Linked DNA regions of Homo sapiens: region 1 is linked to region 2. The links come from fine-mapping of genetic effects on gene expression. A gene starts in region 2. The other region holds a variant in brackets. All regions are shown on one strand. Distances are between the middles of the regions.

What was found. PIP is the estimated chance that this variant, and not a neighbour inherited with it, causes the effect. A credible set is the group of variants that fine-mapping cannot tell apart.
Region 1: its variant is the best candidate, but not a certain one, in a credible set for the expression of NPY1R in gastroesophageal junction (GTEx, PIP 0.57).

Annotation. Positions count from the first base shown.
Region 1 is chr4:163,473,531-163,482,179 of GRCh38, forward strand. It overlaps TKTL2 (transketolase like 2), which reads right to left and starts at 224. Exons shown (of 1, transcript NM_032136.5): 1 at 1-224. The coding sequence starts at 204. The variant T/G (reference allele first, on the strand shown) is at 3,803.
Region 2 is chr4:163,328,650-163,337,298 of GRCh38, forward strand. It overlaps NPY1R (neuropeptide Y receptor Y1), which reads right to left and starts at 3,947. Exons shown (of 3, transcript NM_000909.6): 1 at 3,833-3,947.

The DNA of each region.
Region 1 (8,649 bases), 140 kb after region 2:
GTCCGGGTGTTCTGGGTCTGTCTGTTTATACTTCATCGTGTGGAAGAAGAGGACAGACACGACCTCCGCTGCACTGCAGCACGACGTGAGCTGGCCAGAACCAGAGGCACACGTGGCCCTGATGGAATGGATCCGCAGGCGGTTGGCTGTGTCCCGCAGCACCTGCACGGTCTTCACGTCGGGCTTGGCGTCGTTGGCCATCATCTCTCTTTTGTCGGTTTGGCAAAGCAAACGGCGCCGCAGCACCCCCACAACCCACCGCGGCAGTGCTCTCACGTGACCGCCCCGCCCTCGCCTCCCCTCTGCCTGAAGGCCTGAGCTCAGCCACCAGCCGGGGCGCCCACAACGGAGCTTCCCGCGAGACTGAGGAAACGGAAACGTTGGAGTAGCCTGCACCCTCTGATGTGCACCGTTCCCTCTCCCTGTCCACGCCCAGCTGAATGGATTTTTAGTATTTACTTTGTCACGTGCATGTTCAACATTAGGAAGCATAATTAAATTTTTTACCTTTCCCTGTGTTATAAATTCAAGACTAGACATTTTTCTGTGTATTATAGGAAGCGATTTGTCAGGCTGTGCTTTTTTAATGCATTAACACTATATCCGAGTCATCACTCTTTCATATCAGAACATTAATAGAAAGGATACAAAGTCACTTTCAATCTGACCAGTATGGCAATGCTATCTCAACAGAGACTTTCTCAGAGCAACCAAATATCTGAATCTCAGACTTATAGAAAGAAATGCAATGACTAATTTGACCAAAATTTATAGGAAGAACAAATCTGAAACCACCCAATTGCAGAATAGAATTGCAACTCCAGTGTGCCGTAAAGTACTATTTCTGTGTTGAAATAATTAGAAGGCCAGTAGGCTGAGGTAGCTTCAGCTCCATGAGTTCCTACCTAAGGAAAGGAAACCCAAATCAGTGTAAATGATAAAAAGGAAATTTAAGCTTAATCAATCAGAAACTGCCAGCTAACTTCTAACTGGGGACTTTCCACTGGGATGACCCAAATAAGTCTAGTACTCCACTTTAACCAATCAAATATCTTTCCTTTGCTTCCAAATTCACCCTATAAAAGCCTTCTCCTTGGCTCCTTTATCAGGAGCTACCAGATTCATGAATCACTGAATGGTCAAATAAATGCTTTAATATTTTAATGTGCCTCAGTTTATCTTTTAATGACTATTACTACAAATCATTTTTAAGACAAAGTTACTTACTTTAAAAAACTAAATTTGTGGGCCGGGTGCTGTGGCTCACACCTGTAATCCCAGCACTTTGGGAGGCCGAGGCAGGCGGATCACAAGGTCAGGAGTTCGAGACCATCCTGGCTAACACGGTGAAACCCCGTGTCTACTAAAAATACAAAAAAATTAGCTGGGCGTGGTGATGGGCACCTGTAGTCCCAGCTACTCGGGAGGCTGAGGCAGGAGAATGGCGTGAACCTGGGAGGTGGAGCTTGCAGTGAGCCCAGATTGTGCCACTGCACTCCAGCCTGGGAGACAGAGCGAGACTCCGTCTAAAACAAAAAAAACTAAATTTGTGCCATTGAACTCTTCTAGCAGGCCAAGGTTATGGTTTGTCATCAATAAAACAACAATTAAAAAAAACACAATGATAATATATCATACCTTCCCATATTGCGATGTTAAACCTCTTGGTTTCTTGAGCAATAATTCTTACCTTAACTTCACGTTAAAATTAGGGCACATAAGAAACACAATGCCTGGTTCCATCCCAGAAAAATAGAATTTGAATTTCTGGACCTGGAGTCTGGGAAGCTATGTTTCTAAAATACATCCATTGATTATAATGGGTAGTCAAGGTTAATAACATAATCTGGAGATAGTCTGAGACCAGTGGTTCTCAACATTAGTTGTAGTTTAGAATTATCTGGGAAGTTTTAAAAACATCTCATGTCCATGCTGCACTCCAGACCAATTATATCAGAATTTCTAGGCAATAGATCTAGGCGTCAGTAATTTTAAAATCTTCCCCAGGCAATTTCAATGTTCAGTCAGGGTTGTAAACAACTAACTCAGGGGGTGTTGTTACTCTTTATACTTATTATCTCTTGCATTATATCTCAGAAAAATATTTCAAATGTTATTTGCTATTTCAACTAGTTCTATCATTTTAACTTTTAAGGACACATATTAGAATAAATAGTAATAATATGACACTACTGATTTTAAGACTTGTTGCAGGAATGTTGGCATTGGAGAAGTTCTTAAGAGGTCATCATGTATCCATAACTCTCCATGTCCTTTGCAAATTAAAGCTTGTTTATCTTTTTAGACAAATAAAGGAGGAGGAAATACAAGCAGACTAGGCTAGAACTGGTAGTACAGAAGATGGGAATTAGAGAAAAAATAATAATCACAGTAAAATAATAGCAAACTACTACAGGCTGACAGGAAAGTAGTTAATATAAACACAGGTAGCTCACCATTATTTTGGCCAAAAAGAACTCTAATAAATCCACACAATTAGTAAACATGATAGTACAAAAATGATTTATGAGGCAATGTTCCCATGAATAAAAACATGGGACTTCTTAACATTTCTTTCCAAGTTCCCACATTCTTTCACTCATTTAAAACATTGCACAGCTATTTCCTAAAGTATTAAATAAAAAAATTTTAACATTAGCAAAGGTCAATTTTATTAAGAGAAGAATGTAGTCTTGGAGATTTAATACCCTAGATAGTGAGTGTGAATTTCCCTCTATCATTCTGTGAGACCGTGTGAATTTTTTATACTATATAGAAAATAATATTTTATAAATTATGTGTAAAATACTTATAAACCATTCTGAGATTTTGTAAAAGGAACTCTGGAAAGATATATATATATATATATATATAAATATATAAAAGTATATATATAGTAAAATATCTGGAAAGATATACTATATATAAAAGTATATATATTATATATAAAAACTCATATCAATATATGTAATATATATTAAGTTTATATAAAATTAATTTTATATTAATATGTTATATAAATAACATATATAAGCTGTTAATTATTTTCTTTAAGCATTTTAGTCTTTTAAATTTGAAATATATTTTAAAATATACAATTGAAAATATATAAATACAGGTAGAGCATCCCAAATTTGAAAATCTGATGTTTCCAATGCTCCAAAATCTGAAACATTTTGAGCACTGACATGTTACTCAGGGGAACTGCTCAAAGGACATTTTGGATTTGGGATTTTTCTGATTTGGAATGTTCCGTTGTTAAGTATAATGCAGATATTCCAAATTTTTTTTTAATTGAAATCCAAAACACTTCTGGTCTCAAGCAAATAATTTCAACTAAAGAATACTCAACTTGTTTAAAGTATGCACAATTTCATAATGCAAAATTACCCAATATGGCTGGGAACACAACTTCGTCAAATAAATCAAACAAAGACGTGATACCACCTTCTCCCCTATTTAGAAGACAAAATAGGGGAGCCAAACCCTATTTGGCTGACAAAATGTCAGCCAAAAACTTTTAAACCAGCACGCCAAAAATGTAGTTGTCTTGGAGAAAAGTTCATTATTCATTTTAGAGATCATTTTGGAAGCCAGTCAAAAATGTTCTGCAAATAGGAAAACATTATTCATTTATTATTAATCTTGGTTTATCCAGACAAAGCAGAGATTGGCAAATTCAAGTGCCTACTGGGATAAGGAGTTACCACGAGTGCTTGGATGTCAGCTATAAGAGGGTTAGAGGGGCCTGTGTTAAACTGGAGAATACAAGACCACTTAAAGGCATTCAAAATTGAAAAAC[T/G]TATAAACATTTTGTTGGAAAAATAAAATATACCTTCAGGCTGCCACTTTTGACCCCAATTTAAAGTCTATTTAAAAGCAGCAATAATTTTTGTTTTAACTTTGCTTAAATTTTTCACTTAATTTTTTCTCATAGTATCTAAAAGTATTCATTATAGCGTGTACTTCACATGAAAACAAAATCTAACAGGATTACCAATACAAGTAGCTATGAGGGAAAAACTTAAATAGTAGCAATTGATAAGTGTAATTTCTACTGAGCTGCAGCAGAGAAAACAGAACACACAATTACCGATTACTGAGTAGGTCTACACTGATTTGTGAAAATAGATATTTTGCCATGTGAGGGTGAGTGATATTTAGGAGTTGGGAACGCTGAAATTTTACTTAAATCTTATTTAAACTGTTAAGTTTTGTTAAAATGGAATTATATAAAATACATAAATGCTGAATTCATCTTTTGCTTCCACTGTTTAAATTTGGTTGGCTTTGGAAGCTAAAGTATGGAGCAAATGAGAATAAGATTCTTGTGTAAGGCAATAAGTCTCCTGGAAAGAAAAATGTACTTTATCTTCCTGGATTATTGCTTTGAAAATTTTAACAGATGCTATTATGATGCATCTGTAGGATGCTATCCCACTTTTTCCACAGTTACAAGTCCTTATTTTGCGGTGGAGAGAGAAGGGGCAGAAGAGAGAGGTGGCAACAAATTTAAGAAACTTGGCCCAGCTCCTAGTCCCAGGAGAAAATCATAATTAATGTAGGACCAGCATCACAATGCCATTCCCTTTGGCTAGTAATGGCAGTCAGCACTTATTGACCCAGTTCTGGTCAATAAGATGTAAGTAAAAGTCTGCTTTGGGTGTAATAATTCTCATCGTTTCTTTCTTTTAGAGATGGGGTATTGCTATGTTTCTCAGGCTGGTTTTGAACTCCTGGCCTCAAGTGATCCTCCTGCCTGGTCTCCCAGCTGGTAATAATTTCTATTAAAGATTTTCTTCCTGGTAAACAGGAGAGAGTACAAGAAGAACTGTGATCTCTTCTTTTTTTTTTTTTTTTGGGATGGAGTTTTGCTCTTGTTGCTCTGTCATTTAGTAGAGACAGTGTTTCACCATGTTGACTAGGCTGGTCTTGAACTCCTGACCTCAGGTGATCCGCCCACCTCCGCCTCCCAAAGCGCTGGGATTACAGGCATGAGACACCACGCCCAGCCATTCTTTTCAACCCCTCTACCACCACCACCAGAGGATGTGTTGGAGCTATAGCAGCCAAAAGCCTAAGGATAAGGCCAGGCGCTGTAGATCAATTATTAGCCACTTTTCCTGTAAACCTAAAAGAAATTAAAATAAATAGTGCAGGCCGGGCACAGTGGCTAACGCCCAGCGCTTTGGGAGGCTGAGGTGGGCGGATTGCCTGAGGGCAGGAATTTGAGACCAGCCTGGCCAACATGGTGAAAGCCTGTCTCTACTAAAAATACAAAACTTAGCTGGGCAACGTGCTGCACATCAGTAATCCCAGCCACTTGGGAGGCTGAGGCAAGAGAATTGCTTAAACTTGGGAGGTGGAGGTTGCAGAGAGCTGAGGTGGCGCCACTGCACTCCAGCCTGGGCGATGGAGTGAGACTCCATGATTAAAAAAAAAAAAAACCTACAGATAAAAGTTAACGTGCTTAGTACGGTAGACTGGAAAAATAGAAAGTATGAGTTCTTCATAACTTCGTGGGTCCACAAGCCTTGAGACCAGCTTCTTCTAGACTCCTTGTTAAGAAAAAAATTAAATATTCCCACTTTATGAATGAGTTTCTGTTATCTTCAACTGAAAACATTTCTGGGAGATACAAAAATAGATCCCCTAAACAAGCTCCTGTAAGTCTAGTAATCAGGGAAAAAAACAAGAAAAACAATCAAGACGGCTCACAGTAGAAGAGAAGGGGCTCTAGAAAATGTAGTTTACTCAGTATTTTTATTCTCAGTGCCTGGTCCCACCCACACACCTACAACTTTGGTCTTTTTTGTATAATTACTATTGCTATGTTGCTGTTGTTGTTATTACATTGACTATCTCTTCAAAAACTAGGATTTTTAAACTTGGTACATGGGCTTTATGTATAGAAAACACTCAGATACCTTATCATATTCATTTGCTGTCTGGCCTAGATGGTTGGGTATGATGGAAATATGAAAATGATATAGCTGGATTTATTCTCATATAGACTAGCTACATTTAGTGGAGAAAATGCTTTTCCTTCCATCCAGATAATAACCTTGAAGTAGATTACAACAAAATCTCTTACTTTTGAAAACTAAAATATAATAACAAATGATAGCAATAGTAATTTTTTAAAATCCAAGGTATTAGACTTATATTACTGATTGTAAATCAGTATGATCAGCTTTAAATATATGAGAGGAATTTAATTCATTCTATAAACCATTTTTATTAGATACTACTATTGTATGCATTAAATAGTGGATTAGTACTTGCGCCATGTCCCACCTAACTCCTTCCCATCCTCAGGTCAAATTCAGCCCTTTGTTGAGATTTTATTTTGGCTAGAATATTTTAGCAAATGTATTGAGTTACAAACAACAAACAATAACAGTAATAACATTAATCCATTTAACCAACAAATTAATGAATTTTGGCAAATGTTTATTTCTATTTAGCTATCACAACAATCAAAATATAACTTCAATATTTCTATCGTCCTCAAACATTCCTGTATGCTTTGGCATTCAGTTATTCTTCACCCTAGGCTCCACTGATTTGCTTTCTGTCTCTGAGGTTCTGTTCCTTTTTGTTTTTTATTCTTTCCCCTTCTGAACTTCAGTTTGGATAGTTTCTATTGCAGTGTCTTAAAGTTCACTGAATTTTTCTTCTGCAGTGTCTAATCTGCTCTGAATCCCATCCTTTGAATTTTTTATTTCAAATATTATACTTTTTATCATTAGAAGTTCCATTTGGTTCTTCTTTATATCTTACTGTCCTCATAATATTAATCTCCTTTTAATTCTTCTAGAATATATATATATAAATATATATATATATATATATATATAAAATTTCTTTTTTTGAGACAGAGTTTCACTCTTATCACCCAGGCTGGAGTGCAATGGAGCAATCTTTGCTCACTGCAACCTTTGCCTCCCAGGTTCAAGCGATTCTCCTGCCTCAGCCTGCCCAGTTACTGGGACTACAGGTGTGTGTCACTACACCTGACTAATTTTTTGTATTTTTAGTAGAGACGGGGTTTTGCCATGTTGGCCAGACTGGTCTTGAACTCCTGATCTCAGGTGATCTGCCTGCCTCAGCCTCCCAAAGTTGTTGGTATTACAGGCGTGAGCCACTATGCCTGGCCCTTCTAGCATATTTTAAGAAGATTTTTTTAAAAGTCCTTGTCTACTAAGCCTATTATTCGGTCTCTCTGTTTCCATTAACTAATTTTTCTTCTGATAATGTGTTACACTGTCCAGTTTTATGGAATATCTAGTTTTTAAATTAAATGCTTGACATTATTTTGGGAGGTTGGATTTTATTTTATTGTATATTTTTAAAGAGTGTTGGACTTTGTTCTGAGAAGCCACTCATTCCTTTCGAGTATTTTAAGTCTGTTAAGGCAAATGTAGGGTATGCTTTACTCTAGTGTTAGTTTAGCTCCCCTACAAAAGCATAATCTCTCCAGGGTTTCCACCGAATGCGCCGGTGTGTTCAATCAGGCCCCTCAACTCTGGCTGGCTAGGACTCAAGTGTGGCTTAGCTTCTGTGAGTTCTGGGAACTGTTTGGTTATCACCTTTCCCAAGTTGTCATTTTCCTGGCCATGTAAGATGTATGCTTTATGCAAAGGTACTCTAAAGATTTCTGGAGCTCTTTGGGCAGTTTCTCCTTATAATCATTCTGCCTTCAAAATGCTAGCCAACATAGGATTCCTGAGCTCCAATCTCTGTTGCCTTATTTGCCATGCTGTGTGTCAGATGCCCTTCCCTGTAGCACTGTCTGGAAAGGGCCTCTAGGAAGAAAGCCAGAAAGATAATGTTTTCTCTCTTTCATAGACCACGATCCTGTGCTGCCTGTTTTCCAATATATGAAAACTATTACCTTATAAACTTTGTCTAGCTTTCTAGTTGTTTATGGCTGGAGGGTAAATCTCATTCCAGTTACTTCCTCATAGCCTCAGAACAGCATTTAAAATGTTTTGAATGTTAATACTTTATACTGGGCATATATTCTCCAGAAAACGGTATCCCAACTCACACTACTCCTTATGTCTAGCACCCCTCTGATTCCCACATTTATATTACTTCTTGAACCCAGAAGACTTTGGAATTTCCAATTACACCAATTGTTACTAACCCTTATGGTGTCATTTTAAAAAGATGTCCCTCAAAGCATGGTCTAATGAAATTTTAATTTTTAAGAACTATCAAAAAAATTTCATTGTTATGGTTAAATTTTCCAGAGAGATTTAGTACTGCTCTGATAAACCCAAAAACCCTTGGCATTTGTATGATTTTAAATTAAATTCTCTAAAACATATCAAATAACTGCCTTTCTTCTTATAAAGGGGATGTGGAGCATTAACCTTTTCTTTGATGACTAATGGTCATCATTATGACCACTGGCTATTAAGCTTTATTGAAATTCAATCAAATAAATCAAAATTACTATTGAGAATGGTGCTTAAGGAAGGTTATTCCAGCATCTTTGTTCAGAATAAATGTTCAATTTTTATTACTCTACTGTAGTATATTTTTCAGGGTATGTAGCTGTAGTAACAAAATAACCAAAAAAAAAAAAAAAAAAAAAAAAAAAGGAAGTGGCTCAAGCAAGATTTAAGTTTATTTTTCCTT
Region 2 (8,649 bases):
CTCTTGTCCACACTTTACTCTAATAATCCCAATGTGAATACACTGCTCTAGGCAGGTGAGTCTGTTCACAGTCTACCAAATATAGCTCTGCGTCTCCACCTCCGCCATTCCTCTTGCTGGGTGTTCTCTCTCTCCCACCACCAATCCAAACTCTACCCATCTTTCAAAGCACCATTTAGTCCCTAGAATCCTTAGTTGGCTCCTCTCATTTTTAATATAACATCTTTGAGGTAGGCATTGTGCATACTTCATAGTACCTTGCAAGTATTAGACTTAGAATAAAACTGTGTTGACTGATATAACTGATGCATGGTTGGAATAGTAGGTTCTTGGGTAAATTAATCCTAACATCAATAGCTCAATTCCATCATAGTCCTTGAACAGGCAAAATGTATGCTAATCACAACAGCCGTACTCCTAGGTCATGTATATAGGGGAAAATGTTACACTTTATATAAAAATATTATTTCTGAAAGAAAATTTATTCATTCAACAAATATTAATTAAACATTTATTTTGTGTTAGGCATGGTTTTACTGGAGATAATGTGACCTTCTCACTGTGTTTCTAGTCTTGTGGGCAGAGAAAGACAAGAAAAAAATTAGTAAAAGATATAGTATGCTAGATGATAATACATATTATGAAGTAAAACAAAGCAAGAAAGAGGGACTGGGGCCGGGCGAGGTGGCTCACACCTGTAATCCCAGCATTTCGGGAGGCCGAGGCGGATCACCTGAAGTCAAGAGTTTGAGATCAGCCTGGCCAACATGGTGAAACCTTGTCTCTACTAAAAATACAAAAATCAGCCAGGCGGAGTGGAGCACACCTGTAGTCCCAGCTACTCGGGAGGCTGTGGCAGGAGAATTGCTTGAACCTGGGAGGCAGAGGTTGCAGTGAGCCAAGTTCAGGCCACCGCACTCCAGCCTGGGTGACAGAGCAAGACTCCGTCTCAAAAAAAAAAAAAGAAAGAGAAACTGGGATTTGGGGGAGCTGCAATTTATTACTTGACTGTAAAAGATGGCCTCTGACTGTCTGAGAAGAAGGCATGTAAGTTAAGACCTGAGAGGAGTGGTGAGTAGGGAAGCTATGCAAGTATCTCAGGGATTGCATCCCATATGGAAAGAACAAAAATCCCTAAGGCCCATGTGTAACTGGTGTGCTAAGTAGCAATAAGAAGTAGGATAAATAAGGGAGGGACTCTTAGGAAATTAATTAGGAAGGCTAAAGAGGGGGGTACAGACTGTAGAGCCTTTTTTTTTTATGGTCTGTGCCTATAATCCTGAGAGAGCTGGGGAGCCTCTGGAGAGTCTTTGGCAAAGGTGTGAAGTTTTATGACTTTTGATTTAAAATTACTATTCTCGCTGCTGTTTTCAACACACTCAAGGAAAGAGAAGAAATGGGGAGATTCATTAGAAAGCTAGTGCAATAATTTTGGCGAGAAATAATAGGGACAGAGACCAAGATGTATACCATGGAGAAAAAGAAACAGAAATATTCTATCCACTGACTGATTTTGGCAAAAATGAATACATATAAGAATTCACACAGACATTAAATTATTGCAAAGTACAGGCTACAAACATAGCTTTCTTACAGATGAGTTCAGGTAAACGTACTGAAGCTCTAGCCTGATACCTTTGAAATTGTATTTAATAGGCATGCCCAATGAGGAAGCATTTTTCTTACTAGGTAGAAGTTAATTTAGCTATAGAGAAAATGAAAAGTTTATTTTTTTAAGGTGTTTTCAAGCCTATTTTACTAAGTGCACATTTGATAGTTATTCCAGTTGTGTAAACCAATTCTGCATTGGATAAATGTGTATTTTCAGTTTACCTTAGTGTAATTTCAAGAAAGAATAACTGTCAGAAAATAACAATACTAAGAGAGAATTTACACACTTTATCTTTGCAAAAGAAAATAATTTGATATTTACTATTCTAATATAATTTGTAAAATAAGCTATGCAACTGCAGAAACTGCAAAAATTAAAGACTGTTAAATCTCAGTGTAGCTGCCATGTGCATATAGAGACAAAACAGACATTACATACATCACCAGTTGGCAAATTAGCCCCCTTGCAGAGGGAAATTTCCTCTTCTTTCTTTCCAATTAGAATGCTGGCCTTTCATTGCTTGCTCTTCGCAGTGCTGTTACTACTTGAAAATACAGCTCCCTGATCATAACCTGCTGCAGATACATTTTTTCAAATACTCAGGATTGGCTGGCTGTTCACCTCACTTGTGTTGGAAAAGAAATGTCAGCCTTGTTACATACAGCCTCCCAAAGTTACTGCTAGCTTATCTAAATGAATTACATAATTCTCTGCTCCTTCCTTGCTGGGGAGGGCTTGTTCAACAGACTGCTGCCTTAAGACAATAAAGACTAATAAAGTAGTAGTCACGGAAGAGCACTCGGTCTAGTCCTGGGTGGGGAACCTGGTCGGGTTAGCTTTCTGCTCCCTCGCTTGCTTCGCCAGAGAGCCGGCCCAGGGTCGAGAACAAACAGCTACTGCTTTTCTGTTCCAGACCTGACAGACAAGCTCCACATGTCCCCTGCCTGTGTGTGCCATCCCGCCCGTCATGCTTTCTCATAGGATGGGGAGTGGGGGAAGCAATGCGTGCTCTGTGTGTGTGTGAGTGTGAGTGTGTGTACATGGAAACACACTCTCTTTTGCTCCTCTCCCCTAGGTTTTTCCTGTGCTCCAGAAGTTATCAAACAACGAAATGGGAAATGGGACATGTTCAGTCAAAATTCCTGTTGGCACGCTTACCCACCCACCTTTTTCATATTGCGTAACTAGGTGAATCGCCCGAAATTTACTCCATTCCTGACTCCCTACTACACACACATACACACACTCTCACTCTCTCTCTCTCTCTCATCAAAAAACCTTTCTACCAGTGATAAGAGACTGGCAAAAGAGAAAAGATATAAACAACCAAAACCAAGCAGATCCCAAACCGAAGTCAATTCTCTCTCTTTGGCCCAACATCAGACCTTAAAACATTCTTATCTCTCCAGTCTACCTGGGAACCAATGGCACACCCTATCAAGACACCTCCACCTCCTGTCCATTCCCAATCTCCTAACCCAGCCACGTTCCATCATTACTTTTCTAAAAGAAAGAGCTAAAGAGTTCCCTGATTAGAACTCCGATGATTAAAAGCTTCGGGTGTCTATCGGGGCGCAGCGCCACACTCGAAGCGCCCGGTACTGCGGAGCGCGGCTCGATTGCAGCCGAGAAGCGCGGAACCCGCAAGTGGGGGTGGGCTTGCGCGCTGGGGTCCGCGCCGAGGGCTACTCCCACCTCCGCCAGCTCCCAGCCCGACACCTGCCGCGGGACCCGTGCGACGCTGGGCGACGCGCCAAGCCCACCCTTCTCCGGCTCATCCCAGCCAGTTACTCCGCGAAAACTCCGGTGCGGCCAGAGCCAGCGCCTCCAGCCAGCTCAAGACACGTAAGGAAAATGAGCGGGTGTGGGATAGGCGAACTCGGGCGCCTTCCCAGTGCCTCGGCCTTTTAAAGAGAACCGGGGTAAAGGAAAACTTGGATCCCCATCCAGAAATTCCCCGGGAGCAGGTGGTGGGAAAGCCCGAACTCCGCGTAGGGTACCCTCTCCTTTCACCCGCGTCGTCCCCATACCCTTCGGCAGGAGCCCGCGAACGGTCCGGTGATTTGGAGCAACCTGCGACCTGCCTGCACTGGAGACCCCACCTTGGTCCCCCAGAGCCAGTTTCGGACACTCGCATCGTTTTTCTTCCCCTCTCATCCTTCACCTTGTCAATGAGAGATTTCGCAGAAGTCTCTGGAAAGGCATAAACTCGCAACTTACCCTCTTTGGAATTTGTCTTTTTCGCTCCTGCTTATTAAAGAAGGAAGGGTGGGAATGGAAGGGAGCAGAGTGGGGAAGATCCGCTGGTATTTCTCCTGCTCAGATCCTAAAGATTGATGAAGCTAGGAAGAGACGCCTCCTTAAAGCCGAACTCCACCTCATCCCGGATCACGTGACGGCGTCCCGCGAGTAGCGCCTGAAGCTCCCCCAACCCCACAAACACCTCACAAAGGTGCACACCTCGGGGAAGCATTGCCTAGGAATTTTGGAAAGAAAAGCAATCCAACAGAAGCCACACATTATTCGACACAGACCTCCCGCGCAGGGGAAAGGAAGCCCTAATCCCCACAGTCCTCGACTCCGGGGAAGGCAGGGCAGTTTCCCGAGGCTTGAAAAAGTCGGTGCCACTGTGCTTTTCTTTGTTTGCAGGTCAGTGCCATCTTGTGGCCGAAGTCATACCCGGCTGGAGAGCTCGAGCGCCAGCCCAAACCAGGAATCAAAGGGCTCGCTGGGAAACATGAAATTCGCCACAATAATGGCACTAATATTTTCTTTTGCTTTCTTTTGTGACGCTCAAATAACTCTCACGCCAGTGCCGAGAATTTGTTTTCCTCACTTTATAAGTGAACAAAGAGAAGACCTTTAAAAAGTCAAAGCAGTCAATCGGCCCTCCTTTCTTTGGCCCACTGAGAAAATGCATTAAGTCAGATTTGTTCCCAGCGCTTAGCTGCTTTTTAGTTTTTTTAGGGGAGAACCATGAGCTGAATATTTCCCTGGTGGTCGAAAAGCGTCAATGCAATTTTCTCGGTGATTAGTACTACAGTACTGAACATTATGAAGAAAAAAATAGAATGTACACCGAGTACGTTGAAGGCGGCCAAACCCATCATGGTGCCCGATGATTCAGGCCAATTACTGGCACACTGATCTTAGATGTTTTACCTGATTCTATTCTAGTTTCAAAAGTCAAAGTTGTAAACACACACATACACACACACACACACAAATTATGTAGACGATGAACTGATGCAAATGAGTAGAACTTCTTCCAAATAAAATTGTTAAAAATAAGAAGTCTTTCTAATAAAGATACAGGGCACTGCCCAGAGAATTTATAAAGATTTCATTAGAAAACAATTCTAATGGCAGTCTTTCTTCTAATTAAAATCAAAATAAAATTCCAAGACAAGTGGACTCATCTGAACTTTATACTGTTAAAAAACGTTTTCTTTTTCTGATTGTTAGGCTGAATAAACATATTTAAGGTTCAGTATAAGCTCATTTATATAGATAGTGATGAACACAATCTCTGGATGTTTTTCCAAGAAAGCTTTCCAAAATATGTGTCACTAGACATATTTTTATATAGTTGGAAAGGCATTGTAATTAAGAATTAAAATGTCATGATTATGTAATGATTGTACTATTAGTGTATAACAACAGATATAAGCATACATATAAAAATCTCTAATGGTTAAGCAGAGTAAAATGACAACAGATTCATTTATACACACACACACATATACACACACATACTTTTTTTTTTAACCAAGGCACAATAATTTTTACCAAGGCACAATTTAGGAATTTCAACTCTTTCAGGGAAGAATAACTAATATTCATTCAGGTTTCTATGCATCCTCTGTCTACTCTATTGCCTTAAGTCACATTCTGTTCTTAGAAGGAAGTTTTCCCCATGGTTTTGATCATCAAATTGGCTATCTTTAGCCTGCTATAAGAATTACAAATGAAGTAATTTAATTCTCTACTAAGAATATATTTTTATGTAGAAACTATTATTATGTCAGCAAATATTTTGGACTTGAGAATATAATTTGGACTCAGGTACTATGCTTTCTCTATTTCCCAAGAATACTAATAAAGGCATGTCTGCCAGAGTTCTGAACTATTATGGCCATTGTATTTTATCATTTTATTAACTCAATTTTTATGAAGTGTTCTCCCTAAGGAAAATTTGTGAAACTGCATTCTTGAGTTATTAATGTCAGATACCAATCTTTGAAAGATCATTGGTCTCAAGGACTCTTTTCTATGACAACTTTATGATACAAAGAGAAGTTCTGAAATACTCAACAGTGGCTGGGGGCGGTGGCTCACGCCTGTAATCCCAGCACTTTTGGAGGCCTAGGCAGGTGGATCATGAGGTCAGGAGTTCGAGACCAGGCTGGCCAACATAGTGAAACCCCGTCTCTACTAAAAATACAAAAATTAGCCAGGTGTGGTGGTGCGCATCTGTAATCCCAGCTACTCAGGAGGCTGAGGCAGGAGAACTGCTTGAACCCAAGAGGCAGAGGTTGCAGTGAGCCGAGATCGCACGACTGCACTCCAGCCTGGGCAACAGAGCAAGACTCTGTTTTGGAAAAAAAAAAAAAAAAAAAAAGAAATGCTCAACAGCAAAATTATATAATTCTTTAGGAATACCATTTACTAGGATTCTTTCCAATGTGAAAAATAGAGAAATTAGACATGGTCCAATGGCCAAACACAACATAAAATTCTCCAATAATGTAATCTTATAGAAGATTTAAAATATGCAAAGTAGTTTGAATTTCTTAGAAAATACTTATTAAAGAGTTTCCTCATTCCAATTTTAAGATCATATATTTTTCTACTCTTCAGTGAATAATCAGCTGCCTACTTTCCTATCTGGGATTCAAACTAGATAAAACTTCATCTTTGCTAGGGAGAATTTTTTCTTTATTTCTGTGTATTTCTTTCTGTAGTTTCATAACAGCCTGACCTATAAACCAAGGGGAATTATGTTAATGACCTAATCTCATGCTCTCTTGAACAACAGTCTTGCTCTGTGATATAAACTGAGGGATAGGATCTACTCATTAAATTTCTGTAAATCTAAGTTTTGTATTCTAAACAATGGAACAAACTTATGGCCTGGCTCAGCCTTTAAATTCCATGATTCAGTAACTGCTTAAATAAAAGTGTGACAGTATGCTTGCTACTGGAATTGAAACACACTAATTACTAGTCTTCTGAGGAATTTCTGCTACAAGAGTTAAAGTTTCTGAAATGCTATCAGGCCTTGATACAGGTAAATTACCATGAATTGTCACTCAGAAGAAACTTAATAGGCATTAATACTACACGAGAAAACTGAAATGTATATGACATTGATAAGGGGGTAATTCCATGGGGGTAGAACTATGATGAAGCACGTCAGTGAATCAGTTCATATTCTATGAATTGATTTTGTGTCAGGATTTTCCTTCTTTCTGTGACTTACCTGCTGCATTTCTTTGGATCTTTGACGCCCAAGAATGTAAAGCACAATTTTATTTTATGGACCACCAAGAAAAAAATGCTTTCAGTAAAGCAATGGCATACCATCAATAGCAAATGAATATTAAAATATTAAAATGCTTTTTAAGCCCACATTTTAAAGCCAATGAAATATAGTTGGTAAAGAGTTTTGACTTAATCAGCACAATCAAATAGTCAGTACAATCATTTTATTCATCTGACTTTTGGAGAGCATTAACTAGCAGAAAAAAAGTGATGATTAATTTAGTTAAAAATGTGAGTATACAAGTGCACAGACAATTCAATGATCTCCTTTGTGCAGAAAACACACAATACTATTTGTGGATTTTCTCTTGATCTTGATTTGAAATGTGAATGCCTTTCAGTAAAGTTCTCATTTTGTTACATGGGCTGCATATTTCGGGGCATTTTTAAAAACTCTGTCACAATAAGGCTCTAGACAAGTAGGATCTTAAAATTTAGTAAATAGCCAAATCTTTTTCTGCATGCCTTATACTTTCAGATACCCTTTAGACATTCAAAAAAAAGTGTAATGTTATATTACAAAACCATAACATTATGTTTTTACTATATGATATAATGAAAGGAGCTTTGCCACTGTTACTATTACTGTTTTTAATAATTATTATTACTATTCCCTTCATATATTCTTTTGAAGAGACAAAATAAAAATAGCTGGCAAAAAGAATAAGTATGAATGCCACCACAACAGCTCTCATCATCTGTGACAAACATCTCTACTTGGTCGTCTTGCCCCTGACTCCCGCTCCCCAAAATCTCAAGCTTGGTATTAGACTTTCTCACAGCACAACACTTCAGATGGCCAATGTCAATAGATCAGACTTTGCCTATGAAGAAAAGCTATGAAGGTATAATTTTTTCTAAAGAAAGGAGAAAGACTGGGTGCAGTGGCTCATGCCTGTAATCTCAGCACTTTGGGAGGTCAAGGCGGGTGGATCACCTGAGGTCAGGAGTTCGAGACCAGCCTGGCCAACAAGGTGAAACCCTGTCTCTACTAAAAATATAAAAATCAGCCAGGCATGGTGGCATGTGCCTGTAATTCCAGCTACTCGGGAGGCTGAAGCAGGAGAATCACTTGAATCTGGGAGGCAGAGGTTGCAGTGAGCTGAGATTGCACCACTGCATTCCAGCCTGGGCAACAGAGTGATACTGCATCTCTAAATAAATAAACAAATAAATAGGAGAAAGTGTTTTTTTTTTGTACACCTACATAATAGCACAAGCAGGTGCATGCAAAAATGGCACGAAATGTTCTGAGGCATCATTTTGCTAAGGTAAGTATCCTCCTTTCATTCCTTTGTTTAAGGTCTAGCTATTGCTTCCTTTCCCCAGATACAAATACATCTAGAAAGAGTACACACATCTAAGGATGGTCAATGGTATAATATGACCCACCTGATCTTATGAGATTGTTTAGCTGCCACTCTCCGCTAGCATAGCATGTAGGTTAAAGCTCAACTGTGCAGATTATTGCAACTACAAATTCAAAACCTTCA